Linked DNA regions of Homo sapiens: region 1 is linked to region 2. Evidence: fine-mapped expression QTL. A gene starts in region 2. The other region holds a variant in brackets. All regions are shown on one strand. Distances are between the middles of the regions. Region 1 overlaps MICU1 (mitochondrial calcium uptake 1). Region 2 holds the start of MICU1 (mitochondrial calcium uptake 1).

Region 1 (8,000 bases), 240 kb after region 2:
AGGTCAGGAGTTCAAGACGAGCCTGGCCAACATGGGGAAACCCCGTCTCTACTAAAAATACAAAAATTAGCCTGGTGTGGTGGTGGGCACCTGTAATCCCAGCTACTCAGAAGGCTAAGGTGGGATAATTGTTTGAACCCGGGAGGCAGAGGTTGTAGTGAGCCAAGATCACGCCACTGTACTCCAGCCTGGGCGACAGAGCGAGACTCCGTCCCCCTCCAAAAAAAAAAGACATTCCCAATCATAAATGCCTTCCCCACTGGCCAGTTTCTGTGATTCAGAGTGTTGGCACAGCATAGCTGGGTTCTCTGCTTAGGATCTTAACAAGGATGAAATCGCAGTGTTGTTGGGGGGCCTTCATTTTCATCCGGAGTTCAGGGTCCTCTTCAAAGTTCTTTCCTGCTGTTGGCAGAATTCAGGTCCTTTCAGTTGTAGGACCAAGGATTCCTTTTCCTTGCTGGCTGTTGGCCAGTCATTGCTCTCAGCAGGTGACTACAGCTCCTTGCCACCAGGCCCCTCACAGCATGGCAACTCACTTCTTCAGAGCCAGCAACAGAATCTCTCGCCTCAGTCTGCTAAGATGGATTCTTACATAACATAGTTATGGGACTGACTAGCCCATCACCTTTCTCATATACAGTAACCTCATCACAGGATTATCGTAGTCACAGGTTCTGCCCACCTGAGGAGAGGGGATTACACAGGATATGTGGACCAGAGGGTGGAAATACTGGGCGGGGGGCACGTCAGAATTCTGCTCAGCACACCAGCCATCATTTTAGAAACCTACACCTTTGGTTTTATTATTCTGAAGATAGGGACATTTAAACTGATTTAAATTTTAGGGCTGGAAGATAACTTAAAAATCATTTTGTTTAAACCCTTACTTTGTTTTTTGGTTTTTTGTTTGTTTGGTTGGTTTTTTTTGAGACAGTCTTGCTCTGTCACCTAGGCTAGAGTGCAGTGGCATGATCTCAGCTCACTACAACCTCCGCCTCCTGGGTTCTAGTGATTCTCCTGTCTCAGCCTCCCAGTTAGCTGGGATTACAGGCACACACCACCACGCCCAGCTAATTTATATATTTTTAGTAGAGACAGGGTTTTACCATGTTGGCCAGGCTGGTCTTGAACTCCTGACCTCAGGTGATCTGCCCAGCTCGGCCTCCCAAAGTGTTGGATTTATAGACGTGAGCCACTGTGCCCGGCCTGCTTGTTTTTAACATTCATAAAGGGAAATGACTTGCTGAAATCACAGACCAGAAGTTCAGGTTCAGCGACTTCCACACCAGGGTTCTCATTAGTACCCTGGCACCTACTGCTGCTAGAAGGACCTAGAGAATTACATCGAGGACTCAATGCTTTTATGTGATGCCGGAAAGTGGGGCAAATTCACAGCAAGAATGTAGGGAGAGCATCCCCCAGACAGCCAAGACATGGCAGGAAGGCAGGAGTGTCACAAAGACATGTAAGGAAGAGATTACAACAGGAAAAAAGCTCCTATTTTATAAATTCTTTTAAAGTTTGTGGGAGGCAAGCTCTTGCACTTCAGTTCATCATTACATTTGGTAAAAACATTTATATGTGAAGAGGAGTGTTGGCCAGGATTCCATTCATTTAAGACAGAGTCATCAATTTTTAAAGTAAAATTATTCATGATGTAGGCAAGGAAGCTCAAATTCTGAAATAAATGTTTGCTTTATGAGGCATTTTCTCTGCAGAGGCCTGGTTTATTTTCCCAAATTTAAAGTCACTTAGCAATTCTAAAGATTGATTCTGGCTTATGATCACTTTGAATATATTATGATTTAGTAAAATTAGGTAAGTGCCCTAAGGAGGAGGAGAGCTGCTTTAGGGATTCATGATTACCATCATGAATTACATCACAAAGAGAAGAGATGGGGGTAGGATAAACTGTTAAAGCATCCACATAAATAGATAAGGAAAGACAAAATCAGCCAACATTACATCCCACTGAGAAAAAGATCAGAAAAAGAATGATTACTAGAATTACATCAATATCGGGAAAGTGTAGAGGGAGTATTTATTATAAGCATTGCTTCTTTGGGGGTTTCAAGGTTTACTACCTTGAGAAGCCTCGGAAGGTTTAATAAGACACTGTGGCTGGGCCCAGTGGCTCATAGCCTATAATCCCAGCACTTTGGGAGGCCAAGGTGGGTGGTTCGCTTGAGCCCAGGAGTTCAAGACCAGCCTGGGCAACATGGTGAAACCCCATCTCTACAAAAAAATACAAAAATTAGCCAGGCATGGTGGCGCGAGCCTGTAGTCCTAGCTACTTCCGAGGCTGAGGCGGGAGGATCATTTGAGCCCAGGATGTTGAGGCTGTGGTGAGCTGTGCCCTCACTACTGCACTCCAGCCTGAGCAACAGAGCAAGACCCTGTCTCAATTAAAAAAAAATTTTTTTTTAATAAAATTGTTTAAAAATGCAAAACCTAGCCAGGTGTGGTAATCCACACCTGTAGTCCCAGTTACTAGGGAGGCTGAGGCGGGAGAATCAGGAGCCCAGGAGGCAGAGGTTGCAGTGAGCCATGATCTTGCCACAGCACTCTAGCCTGAGCAACAGAACCAAGACCCTGTCTCAAAAAAACAAACAAAAAAGACACTTGTAAAGGTGACTATTTAGTCTTTAATTTCAACAAACTGAATTTAAATATATCAGTTACTCTCAGTTTAGCCATCAGAGATTCAGACTCTGTTATAGCTGACCCCCACAGACCACAAAGGAAATAATTTTTTAAAGAGAAGGGGAAAAGGTACCTTCTTCTCAAGATTGAGATAAGAATAAATAAGGAACTGGTTAAATAAACAAGGAAATTATGATCCATCCTGTCAGTGGAATACTATGCAGCTATTGAAGGAAGCTGCTCATGTCCATCTGGAATTATTTCTAAGATATGTTGTTAAGTGAGTAAAGCAAAACAATATTTAGTACACCACCATTTTGTGGGAAAAGGGAAGAAGCGAAGAGTACATATTTGATTTTATATCTACAAAATATTTCTGGGGAAACTAGTGA[C/T]ATTGATTGTCTCTGAATGACTGGGTGACTGGGGTATAAGGTTGGGAGAGAGACTTCACCCCTTTTGTACCATTCAAATTTTGAAGCAGATGACTATATTAGCGAATCAAAAACATCTTTTTTTTTTTTTTTTTGAGACAGGGTCTTGCTCTGTTGCCTAGGTTGGAGTACAGTTGTGCAGTCATAGCTCACTGCAGACTTGAACTCCTGGGCTCAGGTAATCCTCCCACCTCAGTTTCCCAAGTAGCTAGGACTGCAGGAGCGCACCATCGTGCCCAACTAATGTTTTTTAAAATTTTTCGTAGAGATGAGGTCTTCCTCTATTGCCCAGGCTGGTCTCATTCTTGGCCTCCCAAACCACTAGGATTATAAGCATGAGCCACTGCACCTGTCCTAATTAAAAACAACTTTTAAAATAAAGCTAACAGAATGAATATTTAAACAATGTGAGAGGGAAAAGCAAGTTACTATTGGACGGAGGCTTGCTCTGTCGCCCAGGCTGGAGTGCAGTGGCGTGATCTTGGCTCACTGCAGCCTCCGCCTCCCGGGTTCAAGTGATTCCCTTGCCTCAGCCTCCTGAGTAGCTGGGATTACAGGCATGTGCCACCACGCCTGGCTAATTTTTGTATTTTTAGTAGAGACGGGGTTTCGCCATGTTGGCCAGTCTGGTCTTGAATTCCTAAGCTCGGGTGATCTGCCTGCCTTGGCCTCATAAAGTGCTGGGATTACAGGCGTGAGCCACCACACTTGGCCTGTTTTAAAGACTTTCTTGCAAGGAGACTTGACTAGTCCTCTGTAAGATTTCTCCTAATGTACTCACCCCCTGCACCTTCTGTTCTAACTCTCTAATCAGGCCTTAGCACTCCTTCCTGCTTTTAATACTGTATTCAAACAGAAACCCCCAACCCACATCACTCACTACCATACATGCGCAGTTGGTCTCTTTTCTCCCTTAGAATTCAGATACAGGCCAGGCGCGGTGGCTCATGCCTGTAATCCCAGCACTTTGGGAGGTCAAGGCGGGTGGATCACCTGAGGTCAGGAGTTCGAGACCAGCCTAGCCAACATGGCGAAACCCTGTCTCTACTAAAAAAAAAAAAAAATTAGCCGGACGTGGTGGCAGGCACCTGTAATCCCAGCTACTAGGGAGGCTGAGGCAGGAGAATCACTTAAACCCGGGAGGCGAGGTTGCAATGAGCCGAGATCGCACCACTGCACTCCAGCCTGGGCGACAGAGCAAGACTGTCTCAAAAAAAAAAAAGAATTCAGATCCAAAATGTAACTCGTACCAAATACACACTATTCCATTATTTCCCATATGTGTGTATTAATATATCTGATATCTGTCTCTTCTACGTGTTTCTCCATCTTAATGTGTGTGTGTGTGTGTGTGTGTGTGTGTGTGTGTGTGTGTGTATAGATATATATATACACAGTCTCCTCCACCAAACTGTGATTGTCCCATGGGTGTGTCAGCTGAAATCATTGACTACCTAATGATGCTTGCAGAAATGCTAGCCCTTTGTGGAAAAGATGTGATGGGGATTTTTAATAAACCCAGATACAATACTAGACAATGGCAATAAATCTTACTGCCAAGTTAGTTTGTACCAAATTAAGCGTGTAAGCCCATTGAAGCCATCATCTGGGATGATGCGCTCAGGCTCAGAAAACAGATCTTCTCCGTGGTGTGTCCTGGAAGTTAGGAGCTAGGATTAGCAGCATCACCTCTGACAGTCAGGCAGCCTGAGTACACAGGGGGTCAGCGGGCATAGGGCCTAAGAGCACCGTACAGAACAAGGAATTGTTATCATTTCCATTACTTGTAGGCTGCATTGCTCTTGGCTCCTTAAATTGCTAGTTCTCCTAAATGTTGTCGTTTCCCCTCCCCTCACCCCAGAACTAGGTTAAAATGTGCATTTGTATTAACAAAAGCTCATGGAAGGAGATACAAAAGACAGGACACATGCTCTTTAAGGAAATATCCTCCCCCTTGTTCCACCCAAAGCCATCTAGGGATGGACTTAAGAAAACAAGACATCTGCATCAGCCTTTCCAGGGCTGAAGCAGAACCATCTCCCCTCACTTAACCTTGGCCATCACCAGTCAGCTTTTGATTTTCTCCACTGCAGTCCGGTAAGGCAGGAATAGTACATGGCCACACAGCTTAGAGACTGTCAGCCCAACTTGTCATACCACCTTTCCAAACACTTTTGCATTAGGAAGAGGCAGGTAGCTCCTAACTGGGTCATGCTGCCTAAAGCTGTATCTGTGCATCAGAGGCAGCTGTGGAGAAAAACTCCCAGGGCCACATTCGTTACATGTGCTTTTCGTTGGATTGCTGTTGAATACACTTTTTAAGTTGTCCCTAAAATTGTCGGTATGAGTTCCTAGGGAATACTCAGTGTCTTCCACTGTAGGGGGTAGTCAGATCCACGGCCAACCTATAATTAATGCTGGTGCCTCACAACTCCCAGTTATTCAATTATTCATTCATCCCTCACCAAAAGGACTTGAGTATTTCCCATGTGACTTTTCTTTAATCTAAACCCTTTCTCCTCAGGGTGACAGATTCATGTCATGGAGGAATTGATATTGTCCATATATGGAAGGGATCATGTGGACCCAGTGTGTATAGGGAAAGGGCACCAGCCAAAATTCGAGACCCAGCTCTGTTACCATCTAGCATTGTGACCCTGGGCAAATTATTTAACGTCACATTTCCTCTGAGGTATCTTCCAGTTCTAAGATTCTCTGATTCCAAGTGGACATTTGGGCTCTCATCACTTCAGAGCTCTTCTGTTTAACTATTGTGGTGAATAGATTTATGTATGTAGTTTCTGATATTATATCACACAAACTCAGGGTTTCTTTTTACTGTTGAAACAGCCAGTCATGAATCATGCTGGAGAGTAAATTGGGGACCTGACACAACTCGGATTCTGCCTGGACTTTGCAAAAAGCCAGATGGTGCCAGATTTTTGAGTACTAGTTGAGCCCACTTCTACAAATTCTCTCCCATCCCAATCTAATAGGAATCACCCAATCGCACTTAAACCCTTTGTTCAGGCAGCTGGGCCAGATTTGTACAAAAATACGTAGTATTTAGAAAGCTAGGCCTTCGCTGGGGTGCCTTCATGCTCCCTGTAGACATCTTTCAGATTGGGAGCTGGAATCCCAACCATCAGTCAGCATCATCAAATAGGGAGGCCAGAATTCCAGTACCAACAACTGGTCTGCATAAAAAAGTTGAGATCTGGGAGGAAAACTTGTTCTGCTTGCTGTGATTATGACTGGATTCAGAGATATTGGAAGCAAATATGAATGAACCAACTCTCAGGACCAGCTGTCAAGCACTTGGCTTGTAATCTGCCGTCATCCCACTCATCCCAGGTGCTCCTAGTTTGACAGCTCACCAGCTATTAAATGTTGGCTTCCTGCACGACTCTGATTCATACCCCAGGGGCCTATAATGAGGATCTTGTACCAGGAAAGGGGACCCCAGCTAGGCTGTTTGCTGGCTAACATCCCAGTGGTTTGGGCTACAATAACTTAGCAGCCCTAGTTCTTCCTCCTATGGTAGGAAGGACACCAGAGCCCTCTCCATGTGAGATGGAACATAATCTATAACTTTCTGTGAAGAGATGGCATCTGTAATGAGGCATTCTTGCTGGAGGCCTCCAGAAGTCCCTATTCTACAACCACTTAATACCAATTTAATGAGCCTCTCATTAGAAATTGTCAAGAGCTCTCACTGACATCCTTGAGTATTATTTAATTAATGGTTTATTTACAGGAAAGGGCACCATCTTCATGGGGAGAAGATGAGTACTTGAAATATCAAGACAATTGCAGAAGGCTGTGCCCTGAGAGAATGGAAGAACTGGGAAAGAGAAAAGGAAGTCAGAAGCTTAAGGTTGATGTGAAATGCAGAAAAAGGAATGGTTAACAGAAAGTGTTCATGTTTATCTAATACAGAACAGGTTCCGATCCCCTTCTCAGGACACATTTCTGTGGCAGCAAAGAGTAAAGCTGTAGGCAATCACAGTTTAAGCGCTTCCAGTTCCTTCTGATCTCATTCTGTTTTCACTGAGTAATCTTTTGAGGTTAATCTTCTGAGGTGAATGGGGTTTCCTTAGTAGCTTTCCTACTGAGAAGTATAATGACCAGCTGTCATCATTGTAGTTCTCTTAACAGTTACTATTCTTATTGCAAATTGGCCTGATTTCTGTTCCTTCTGTGGACAGTTTAGTTAGCAGGAATAAGTTTTTCCTGAGCCAAATCAAGTATCTAGATTTGTGAGGCTAAATTTCTAAACTCTAGAGCGCTATAGTCTTGTAGATTTCCCAACACACATCTCATGAATATCCACCACAATATCTTATACTTCAGTCTTTTAGTACCAAAGAATGTTAATTTCCTCTTCACCCTAACTCAGATCCTGGGAGAAAAGATGGGATATTTCCACCCCAACCTCACCCTCAGATTCTAGATGACACCAATAAACCCTTCTTTGTGCTAGTAAGCCGCCTCAGCAGTTGTCTGGTGGCATCCCTCCACTTGAACATGAGAAAATTAAATCTAAAGAGATCAAGTGACTCCATCCGGGTCACACAGCACGTTGGTGGTGGGGCCAGAACTGGAGCCCAGGTCCCGTTACTCCAAGCCTTGTTTTCTACCGCATTACCTTGCTCCTCTGCATTGCTCCAGTGTTTGCATCTGCTGATGTTGGGGGCACTGTGGTGATGTATTAATTAATTCTTGCATTGCTATAAAGAACTACCTGAGACTGGGTAATTTATAAAGAAAAGAGGCTTAATTGGCTCACAGTTCCACAGGCTGTAAAGGAAGCATGGCTGAGGAGGCCTCAGGAAACTTACAATCCTGGTGAAAGGCGAAGAGGAAGGAGGCACGTCTCACATGGCCAGAGCAGGAGGAAGAGAGAGAGGTGGGAGGTGCCACACA
Region 2 (11,569 bases):
TAGTCTACTTTAAGGAAAGCCACTGTCTGATTTCCCCATTTCTCTTTCTCTCCTTAATATAGATTGTTGGATTCTTATTTTATTCAGTGGCTGTAACTTACTACTGTTCTTTTTTTTTTTTTCTTTTGAGACAGTCTGGCTCTGTTGCCAGCCTGGAGTGTAGTGGTGTGATCTTGGCTCACTGCAACCTCTGCCTCCTGGGTTCAAACGATTCTCCTGCCTCAGCCTCCCGAGTAGCTGGGACTACAGGCACGCACCACCACACTCAGCTAACTTTTGTATTTTTTTAGTACAGACACGGTTTCACCATGTTGGCCAGGATGGTCTCAATCTCTTAACCTTGTGATATGCCCGCCTCGGCCTCCCAAAGTGCTGGGATTACAGGCGTGAGCCATCCCGCCCAGCCACTTATTACTGTTCTTATGCTGGTACTCCAATTATCCCAGATTTGGCCAGTGATGGGCCTTCAAGCTGGCTCCCTTTGACATGTCCTCATTTTATTTTCTGATTGCTTCCTTACTTTTGGACACAACAAGATGTTCCAGGTCATCTTGTACATTCCTGCTGTAGACTTGAAACCAGCCCTGTTTTCAAGAAGACTTAGTTCCTTTTTGTGGAGAAAGGTAGTTCAGAAATCAAGATCTGGGCAGAGATTCTTTAATTTTGAAGTTAGTTTCAATCATAAAATCAAGGAGAATATGTCAATTTTTATAAATCATCATATTTATGCCATCCTCCCACCTCCTAGTGGTAAAAAGCCAGGAAACATTTAAGCTTTTTTAAAATTTTTTTCATATTTATTTGAACATAATTAATTCTGGCTATAAGTATTAGAGAAGAATACTCACTGCAAGAACAACTATGGGTCATAAGTCTCTAGATAGCTACTCAAGTACAATATAACTTCAAAAAGGTTGGGTGTGGTGGCTCACACCTGTAATCTCAGCACTTTGGGAGGCCAAGGTGGGTGGATCTCTTGAGCCAAGGAGTTCGAGACCAGCCCGGGCAACATAGTGATATGTTGTCTCTACAAAAATTACAAAAAATTAGCCAGGGCTGGTGGTTTGCACCTGTAGTCTCAGCTACTCAGGAGGCTGAGGCGGGAGGATCACTTGAGCCTGGGAGGTTGAGGCTGCAGTGAGCTGAGATGGTGCACTGCATTCCAGCCTGGGCGACAGAGTAAGACTCTAAGACTCTCTGTCTCTTTGTTTCTCTGTCTCTGTCTCTGATATATATATTCAAAAGGAGTTTGTGATGGACGACTGCATAGGTTTTGAGATACCATAATCTATGGAACCCTGAAGATAAGTGTAATAAAACAAAGACCATCTCATTGAATTCATTTTAAAGAAACTGAATGAAAGCTTTAGAAAATAAACTTTTTGTAGTCTGATACTTGTTGCAAAAGATGTTTTTGTTTTTTACAGTGGTGTGATATGTTGGAGACTGCTGTGGTAACACATATTATTTTAATGTGATAAGAATAGATGAACTATAAAATGTATGACATAAGGACACCAATTTCTATTTTTAGTGAATGACATTAAATACTGTCCCTTGATAACACAGATCTTTCAACACAACACACTTTTGAAATACTGAAGATGAAATAAATAAACATTATATTTTGCATATGATAGTATGATAGTCCTGGGGGCAAAGATCAAATCTATTTGTCAAGTATACAGGACTTAGTATTCATTCCCAATCCTATCATTGCAGGGGAATCACCTGGGACTTTTAAAATCCAGATTCCAGAGCATCACCCTGGTTCACTGAAGCAGTGTGTCTCATGATCCAAGAATCTGTATTTTAAAAATCTCCTCAGATAATTCCCAGGCATTTGATCACCAGACTGGTTTGGGAACTACTGAACTTGTTAAAAAATACATTTTTACGGTGGTGCAAGTCTCATTATAGATACAAGTTGCCCAAGGGCAGGAATCGAGCTTATAAATTTTTACAAGCCCAGCACTAGTTGTGAGCATTACATATATTAATATGTAGGTATTCAATATATGTCTGTGAAAGAATTTTGACTTCAAATTTTATTGGTCACCAGAGGAGTCTTATTATTAGTTTGTACAGGAGATATAAACCTTGATTAGTGATATCATACATTTATATGACTCGGAACACATTGCATAGCATCCTGAAAAACAATACTGAATTGATGGACAGATTTCTAATGTAGAATATAGCTGTGTTTGGTTATGACCTTGAATTCTGCTAACTTACTCTATACTCTTGGAAATGAAGAAGGAGCTAGATGCGGTGGCTCACGCCTGTAATCCAAGCATTATGGGAGGCTGAGGCGGGTGGATCACGAGGTCAGGAGTTCGAGACCAGCCTGGCCAAAATGGTGAAACCCCATCTCTACTAAAAACACAAAAATTAGCCAGGCATGGTGGCGCATGCCTGTAATCCCAGCTACTCAGGAGGCTGAGGCAGGAGAATCACTTGAACCTGGGAGGTGGAGGTTGCAGTGAGCCAAGATTGTGCCACTGCACTCTAGCCTGGGTGACACAGCAAGACTCCGTCTCAAAAAAAGAAAAAAAAAAAGAAATGAAGAAAGAATACTCACATCTCATATTTATTTGTATAAGATTGGCCTAGTCTGTAAATTGTCTCTGTCTTGTTCTCCTTTCCATTAAATGTTCTACTTGATGCCAAAATGACTAGACAAAATATACAATAGCATTTAACATTTGTATGGTTTAAAACAGTGGTTCTCAAAGTGTGGTCAAAGACCACTGGAGGTTTCCTGAAACCCTTTCTAGTAATCTGTAAGGTCAAGACTGTTTTCTTACTAATACACTGTTATTTGCCTTATCGCTCTAATTCTTTCTTGAGTATATAGTAGAGTTTGCCAGAGGCTACATGAAGTGTAAGAGTGCAAACATTTAATGCAGAAAAGATACAAGAATCTGTCTTCTATTAAGCCAGACATTAAAGAAATTTGCAGCCGGGCACAGTGGCTCATGCCTGTAATCCCAGTACTTTGGGAGGACGATGTGGGCGGATCACGAGGTCAGGGGTTTGAGACCGGCCTGATCAACATGGTGAAACCCCGTCTCTACTAAAAATACAAAAAAATTAGCCGGGCGTGGTGGCATGCGCCTGTAATCCCAGCTACTCAGGAGGCTGAGGCAGGAGAATCACTTGAAACCGGGAAGCAGAGGTTGCAGTGAGCCGAGATCGTGCCACTGCACTCCAGCCTGGGCGACACAGTGAGACTCTGTCTCAAAAAAAAAGAAAAGAAATTTGCAATAATGTAAAACCATGCTACTCTTTTTTTTTGAAGTTGTTTTTCTTAAGAATACATTATTTATGTCAACATATAATGGATCTATTATTTTTAAATGACTAAGTACACATTAAAATAATTTCAATTTTAATTTTCTTTCTTTTCTCTTTTTTTTTTTTGAGACTGAGTCTTGCTCTGTCACTGAGGCCTAGGCTGGAGTGCAGTGGCATGATCCTGGCTCACTGCAACCTCTGTCTACCGGATTCAGGCGATTCTCCTACCTCAGCCTCCTGAGTAGCTGGGATTACAGGCGTGTGCCACCATGCCTGGCTAATTTTTGTATTTTTAGTAGAGATAGGGTTTCACCATGTTGGCCAAGATGGTCTCGAACTCATGACCTCAGGTGATCTGCCGCCTCTGCCTCCCAAAGTGCTGGGTGCCATTGTACCCGGCCTCAATTTTAAGTCCTCATATGCTAAATTAAAAAAAGTTTATAGAGACAGGTTCTTGCGCTGTTGCGCAGGCTGGAGTGCAGTGGCATGATCATAGCTCACTGTAGCCTCAAAGTCCTAGCCTCACGTGATCATCCCATCTCAGTCTCTCAAAATGCTGAGATTATAGGTATTAGCCTCTGCCTGGCCGAATATGGTAAATATCGATAGGTATAACACACATAAATAAAAGTTATTTTGAGTCCTCAATAATTTTTAAGTGTATAGGGGTCCTAAGACCAAAACGTTTGAGAAACAATGATTTATGTTTTTAAATGTTATTTAACAGTTAGTTTGACTGATTAGTTTTATATAGACAAATGTTGCCTAAAATTAGAATTGAATTTCAGCAAATCTTTCTTTCTTTTTTTGAGACGGAGTCTCGCTTTGTCGCCCAGGCTGGAGTGCAGTGGCACGATCTTGGCTTACTGCAAGCTCTGCCTCCCGGGTTCCTGCCATTCTCCTGTCTCAGCCTCCCGAGTAGCTGGGACTACAGGCGCCCGCCACCACGCCTGGCTAATTTTTTGTATTTTTAGTAGAGACAGGGTTTCACCGTGTTAGCCAGGATGGTCTCGATCTCCTGACCCGCCCGCCTCAGCCTCCCAAAGTGCTGGGATTACAGGCGTGAGCCACCGCGCCCGGCCTGAATTACATCATTTAAGAGTGGAAGCCTCAGAGGCCTTCAGGTCAGGTCTATGTCCCGCTACTGCATGTACTGCATTACCTAGGGGTGTCAGCCTGCTTCCCTATCTGCAAATGAATAAAACAGTATCCATCCTAGAGTGGTTGTAGACAAGCACTGGGTTGTATGTAAAGCGCTAGCACAGAGCCATGAACACAATCATCTATTGTACTTAGGTTAGTTGGGTCTGAGAAGAAATGGAGAAAACAGAGTTGATTCTGCTTACTTCACAATTTACCCCAGGGATGGTTTTGTTGGCTTTGTTTCCATGGTTGTTGCCTTTTCCACAGCTCTGCTACGTAAATTCTTGGGAAAAAAAAATTATTTGAAAGTTCTCTGGGACCAGCGAGGTGGCTCGCACTTGTTAATCCCAGCACTTTGGGAAGCCGAGACGGGAGGATCGCCCGAGGTCAGGAGTTTGAGACTAGCCTGCCCAACATGGCGAAACCCCGTCTGTACTAAAAATACAAAAATTAGCCGGGCGTGGTGGGGCGTGCCTGTAATCTCAGCTACTCGGGAGGCTGAGGCAGAAGAATCACTTGAACCTGGGAGGAGGATGTTGCAGTGAGCATCACTGCACTCCAACCTGGGCGACAGTGCGAGACTCCGTCTCAAAACAAACGAACAAACAACCAACCAACACCCCGCTGCCCCCCCCCCAAAAAAATTCTCTGGTATTATAGTCATATTTCCATCCTATTTCCACAGCAGGGGTGAGGATCCTTTGCCATCCCATTTTTCTGATAAAAACACCTTCTTCAGCCGGGCGCAGTGGCTCACGCCTGTAATCCTCGCACTTTGGGAGGCCGAGGTGGGCGGATCACCTGAGGTCGGGCGTTCCAGACCAGCCTGACCAACATGGAAAAACCCCGTCTCTACCAAAAATACAAATTAGTAGGGCGTGGTGGCGCATGCCTGTAATCCCAGCTACTTGGGAGGCTGAGGCAGGAGAATCGCTTGAACCCAGGAGGCAGAGATTGCAGAGAGCCGAGATCGCTCCACTGCACTCCAGCCTGGGCATCAAGAGTGAAACTCTATCTCAAAACAAACAAACAAACAAACAAACAAAAAACACATTCTTCAAGGGAAAACATGTTTTTAAGTGGCTTCTAGAGATTATAAACTCTGCAATAATATTAGTCTGCAAATAAAACACCTGACAAAATCATCCACCAGAGGAAGTGGTGAGGGTTTCTAAATCCAAAAAAGTCTCAAGGTTATGAAACAGGAACATTTAATCTCTGAGAAAACCTAAACGGAGTTGGAAAGAAACAATTTCCAACTCACTGTGGTCCAGTTTTCTTTTCACGAACTCCTTTTTGCTTAGCCAACATAGCCAACACGAAAACGGGTACCGAGGAGGTGTTACAAGCCACAGTAAATTTCTCAACAGATTCCTATGACCCTTGTGGAGGGGAAAAAAACCAGAAGAAATGCCCGAGAGCTTCTGGGAGCTCTCCAGCTTTCCCGCCTAAACGCTGAGGGGAGTAAGGGGGAGTGACGGGGCTAGGGCGGGGCCCGAGGCTGGGGCGTGGCGCGTTGATTTCCCCGCCCCTCCCCGTTCCTTTTCCTCTGTGCCCCTCCCACACGCCTGTCTCCACGATCCCGACAGGCCCAGCGGCTAGGAGAGTCACGTGAGAGTGGGCGGAGGGGGTGGAGGTTTGTCTCCGCTGTTTCATCTCTATGGCTGTCAGAGGTGGGCGGCTTTGACCGAGAGGCTGCTGGAGCTCGTGTTTGGACGCGTGAGTCTTGGACTCTGGAGGGTATAAGGAGACAGCAATTTAGGGAAGGCGAAGGGGAAGGGGGTTGGCGAGACAGCCTTAGGGAACTGGGCTTCGTGGCTGGCCGTTTGTCCGCCCCGGGCATCCGGCTACTTCTCGGGTCTGGCGGGATACCTGTCTCTCCCTGATGCGCTCAGCTTTTGGAGAGGAGTCCGTAGTCTTGCTTGCCTCCCGTCCTCCACTTTCCTTCACCCCAACCCGTCCCTTCTCCCGTCCCGGGAGAACTTCTCCCAGTGCCGGGTTCGCAACTTGGCGCCGACGCCCCCCTCCTCACAGGCGACTGGGACACTCTGGTAGCCTTGACTGGCTCTCCTGGAATTTGTGGATGTGGTTAGAAGTGGGTGCGGGAGTTCACAGATGGATTTCTAATACGGAGAAATATTAACCACTGAATCGAAATAAGTGGAAAATCAGTGAGGACTCAAAGGAGAAATACAAAGTGCAGGCTACTCGGACTGTTCAGTTTTTATCTTTTCCAGCGCCTTCCCGTTTTCATTACGTTCTCCCTGTTTTGTTTTCACCGTCGCATTCTGGCCGGCCATAGGCTGTTTTGAGAAAGAGCTAGATGTTATTGACTCTATGTGAATGTTGGGAGAACAGTTTAAAACAAACTGTTCTTCAAGTTGCCTTCTCTGTAATCTTATGGTTGATGGTTTCTTTACCTTCCAATTTTCCATGTCTTAAAAAATACGGTGGCCATTAGTAAATATAAGTAGAATAAATATCTTATAGCTAAGGGACTAGAGTAAAATATTTTATTTTTCCTGTGGTACCTTAGAAACGCCCATTTTCTTCCTATTTATCAATAAATGTTTCTATCTCACTTGTTTGGGTGGCTTCTTTGATATGCCTTTGTTTATATTAGAACATCCCTTTGGGGCACGTAGGGAAGTGATCGAGCAGTATAAGAAAGGAGTTTGCATTTCATGAGGTGAAACAAGTTCGGTGTGGATAGCTGTAGGAGAGTTTAGGTTTCATTGGACCATATGACAAATAATAAACGTCAGTATCTTGAGACAAAGGTGTTGGCCAGAATGACCCACCTACTGTGTTTCTGGTGTGGACCAGGTAATGAGCTTTTTGAATATTGCCTTATCCTAAAAACTTTAGAACCCATTGCCACTTGTCTGTAGGAAGGTGGCTTTTGCCTCCAGCTACTCTTTGTCCCAATCCTTGGTTTGTCCCTGATTGTCTCTTCCACTTAAGAACATCACTCTGGCTACCTAATATATCAAGCAAGTGTCTCTGACATCTTCTGAGTGTCCTTACTGAGAGCCATAAAACATAATATTAACAAAAAGTGAATATTCTGGAGTGGCTTGTGTGCCTGAGGAGAAAGGGAAAGAATGATAGAAACTAATAGAAGCTAATAAATGCAAGAGAACAAAAGTGTTTATTGCTGTCTTCCTTTATATTTACTATATTCAGTAGATTGTTTACATTCCTAAGAAGTGCATCTTGAGACTAACTTTCCTGTGTTTAAGAATAAAACAGGCTGGGTGTGGTGTCTCAGGCCCATAATCCCAGCAATTTGGGAGGCCGGGTGGATCCCTTGAATCTAGGAGTTTGAGACCAGCCTGGGCAATATGGCAAGACCATCTCTACAAAACACAAAAATTAGCTGGGCGCATGCCTGTAGTCCTGGCTACTTGGGAGGCTGAGACAGGAGGATGGCTTGAGCCCTCGAGGTTGAGGCTGCAGTGAGCTGTGATCGTACCATTGCACTCCAGCTTGGGCGACAGAGCGATACCCTGTCTCTTAAAACAACAACAAAAGAATAAAACGATATGAAATTTCTCCATAATGCAATATTATGCAAAATAATTATAATTGAAATATTTAACTGACCAACTCCTTCAGATCTTATGCTATTCAGAGTTATAGGACTAATATAATTGATAAAGCTTTTTTAAACCCAATTTTGCCACCTTCAGTCTTTAAAGTTAGCTTTATCTCTTGAGCCATTTTTACAATGGCTGCAGCACTTGCTGAACATTAACCATTTTTTCCATATGCAGTTGTTTAGTGTATCCCTTTTAAAATAAGAACCAGTTTTTAATTAATTAATTAATTAATTAAATGGAGATGGGGTTCAGCCATTTTGCCGAGGCTGGTCCTTTTGTTGAGGGGTGGGGACGGAGTCTCATTCTGTTGCCCAGGCTGGAGTGCAGTGGTGTGATCTCGGCTCACTGCAACCTCTGCCTCCTGGGTTCAAGCAATTCTCCTGCTTCAGCCTCCGAAGTAGCTGGAACTACAGGCGCGGCACCACATCTGGCTAATTTTTGTATTTTTAGTAGAGATGGGGTTTTACATGTTGGCCAGGCTAGTCTCGAACTCCTGACGACCTCAGGTGATCCACCTGCCTCGGCCTCCCAAAATGCTGGGATTACAGGCCTGAGCCACCACACCTGGCCTACCCAGGCTAGTCTTGGAACTCCCAGACTCAAGCGATCCTCCCGCCTTGGCCTCCCAAAGTTCTGGGATTGCAGGTACAAGCCACCATGCCTAGCCACTAGAACCAGTTTTTTTAAAAAGGTTTACTCAACTGTTTTTTCCACACATATTTTCTTTTTCTTTCTTTTCTTTTCTTTTTTTCTTTCTTCTCCCTTTCTTTCTCCCTCCCCTCCCCTTCCCTTTTCTTTTCTTGTCTTTTTTTTTTTTTTTTTTTTTGAGACGGAGTCTCGCTCTGTCTTGTCTTTTTGACAGAGTTTCACTCTCGTTGCCAAGGCTACAGTGCAATGGCGCGATTTTGGCTCACTGCAACCTCTGCCTCCGGGGTTCAAGTGATTCTTCTGCCTCATCCTCGTAAGTAGCTGGGATTACAGGAGCGTGCGCCACCACGCCCGGCTAATTTTTGTATTGTTAGTAAAGATGGGGTTTTACTATGTTGGCCAGGCTGGTCTCGAACCCCTGACCTCAAGTGATCCGCCCGCCTCAGCCTCCCAAATTGCTGGGATTAGAGGTGTGAGCCACTGTACCTGGCCTCCCACTCATAATTTAAAAATGAAAATATTGTAATAGCTTTATTTTGTGCCAGGAGAAGAAGGTGATTGTTTTTAGATGGATATTCTATGTGCTTTGGTAAATTATGAGAAAATTGTTAATACTTTTAAGATATTGAAATATGAATAAGCATGTTTGAGAAGAAAACACGGGCAATATTTTTAAACATTTTAAATTTCCTATTATTGAAGTAATATGCTTATTTTTGGAAAATGGAAACATTATCGAAAATACAATATTGAAAGTCAAAGTCCTAATTTATCTTTTCTCTTACTACCAGGTAACCACTAGTTCCCTTTGCATATTTGGGATTCAGTGTGGAAAAGTAAGGCTTTGGAGTCAGATTCCCTGGGAAAGATTGTAATACCAGCACTAGGCTTACTTCCTTCAACCTCAGAAACCCAAGAAGAAAGAGAATTTCCCTTTCTCTACAGTTCCAGCGCACCACTGTATGGTAGTTTCATTGACCTGACTTGGGTCTTTGCCCATCCTAGAGGCAGTCCCTGTGGCCAGAGTGATGGAATGCTTTGTGTGGCTAGGCTTGGAATTTGTCCCTATCCTGGAGTGGGAAGGAGAGGAATATAGTTTGAAACCATTTGAGTTAAGGGTGGGTGACAGTTCCTAAAGAAAAATTGAGGTGATGCTTTCTGGAGAAGAGCAATTGGTTGCTGGACAGGCAAAAACAACAGATGTTCACTAAAATAATTTTCATGTTTTTTTTTTTTTTTTAATTAAGAGAACTTGGGGCCGGGCGCGGTGGCTCACGCTTGTAATCCCAGCACTTTGGGAGGCTGAGGCCGGCAGATCACGAGGTCAGGAGATCGAGACCATCCTGGCTAACATGGTGAAACCCCGTTTCTACTAAAAAAACAAACATACAAAAAATTAGCCGAGTGTGGTGGCAGGCGCCTGTAGTCCCAGCTACTCCGGGGAGGCTGAGGCAGGAGAATGGCGTGAACCTGGGAGGCAGAGCTTGCAGTGAGCTGAGATCGTGCCACTGCACTCCAGCCTGGGCGACAGAGCAAGATTCTGGCTCAATAAATAAATAAATAAATAAGAGAACTTGGTTTCCTTTTGCAATATAAAAAATTGTATTTACAGTTTATGTGTTGATTTTTTTCTATTTTTAATGCCTATTATAATCACTTAAAGAACTTGAAAAAATTTACACTCTTCCAGTGTGTGTATCTGTACTGTTATTACATGTTTAGTACCCCTGCTCTGGAATATTCAGGTTTTATAACTTTAAATATATTATGTATTAGCCAGCTTGTTAAAATAAATTCTTGATATTTTTATTGCTTTGGGTGAACTTGATTAGTAACTGCAGTTAATAAATAGTAAATAAAAATGTTTTAAATATTTAAATACATGTTGTGGATATGATTAAATACTTGGTTCTTTTCATTGTTTTATGTTTAAAAATCTGTTAGTATAGAAACCACTTTATTTTTTTATTATTATTATTATTTTTTGAGACGGAGTTTTACACTTGTCGCCCAGGCTGGAGTGCAATGGCGCGTTCTTGGCTCACTGCAACCTCCGCCTCTTGGGTTCAAGCAATTCTCCTGCCTCAGCCTCCCAAGTAGCTGGGATTACAGGCACCTACCACCACGGCTGGCTATTTTTTTTTTGTATTTTAAGTAGAGATGGGGTTTCACCATGTTGGTCAGTCTGGTCTCGAACTCCTGACCTCAGGTGATCTGCTAGCCAAAGTGCTGGGATTATAGGCGTGAGCCACTGCGCCCATCCAAAACCACTTTATTTTGAACGTGGTATGTAAAATAAATTACCATAATTATAACTAATTGCTATTACTGGGTGTTAACTTTAAAATTATAATTAACACTAGTTTTGTATCTTTATGCCTTATTCTGGTGGTTCATCATTAAAACAATTTTTTTTTCTGTAGAAACGGGGTCTCACTATGTTGCCCAGGGTGGTCTCAATCTCCTGGGTTCAAGCATTCCGCCTGCCTTGGCTTCCCAAAATATGGGGATTACAGGCATGAGCCACCATGCCTGGCCAATCATGCTTTAAGAGCACGATAGAGTGGATACCTGTAGATAAGATACCTGTGGGTAAAACAGGTAACAGAATGTCAGTTGAAAAAGCAAAAAAAGGTAGCTGTGGAATTGGACAACTGTGAGAAGTGATTGACATTAAATATAATTAATAACCTGTCGTTGAAAAGTTAAATATTGCCACATCGTGGGAGAGGTGTTTTAGTTCTGTTTATGAGGCAAGAAATGGCTAGAAGTAGACTCAGCTTTTTTCCCCCAAACTAACAGGGTGATCAATTTTTTGCAGATCATAAATGTTTCCTAGACTAATATTAAGTTCAAGATGGGTTTTACTATGAGAA

The links. PIP is the estimated chance that this variant, and not a neighbour inherited with it, causes the effect.
Region 1: its variant is fine-mapped to the expression of MICU1 in whole blood (INTERVAL, PIP above 0.99).

Annotation. Positions count from the first base shown.
Region 1 is chr10:72,378,415-72,386,414 of GRCh38, reverse strand. The region is part of intron 10 of MICU1 (mitochondrial calcium uptake 1); the gene reads left to right. Among named protein-coding and RNA genes, the nearest start is that of DNAJB12, 27 kb to the right of the region's middle. The variant C/T (reference allele first, on the strand shown) is at 3,036.
Region 2 is chr10:72,620,603-72,632,171 of GRCh38, reverse strand. It overlaps MICU1 (mitochondrial calcium uptake 1), which reads left to right and starts at 6,093. Exons shown (of 12, transcript NM_001195518.2): 1 at 6,093-6,162. RefSeq lists enhancers at 6,089-6,238, 5,789-6,326.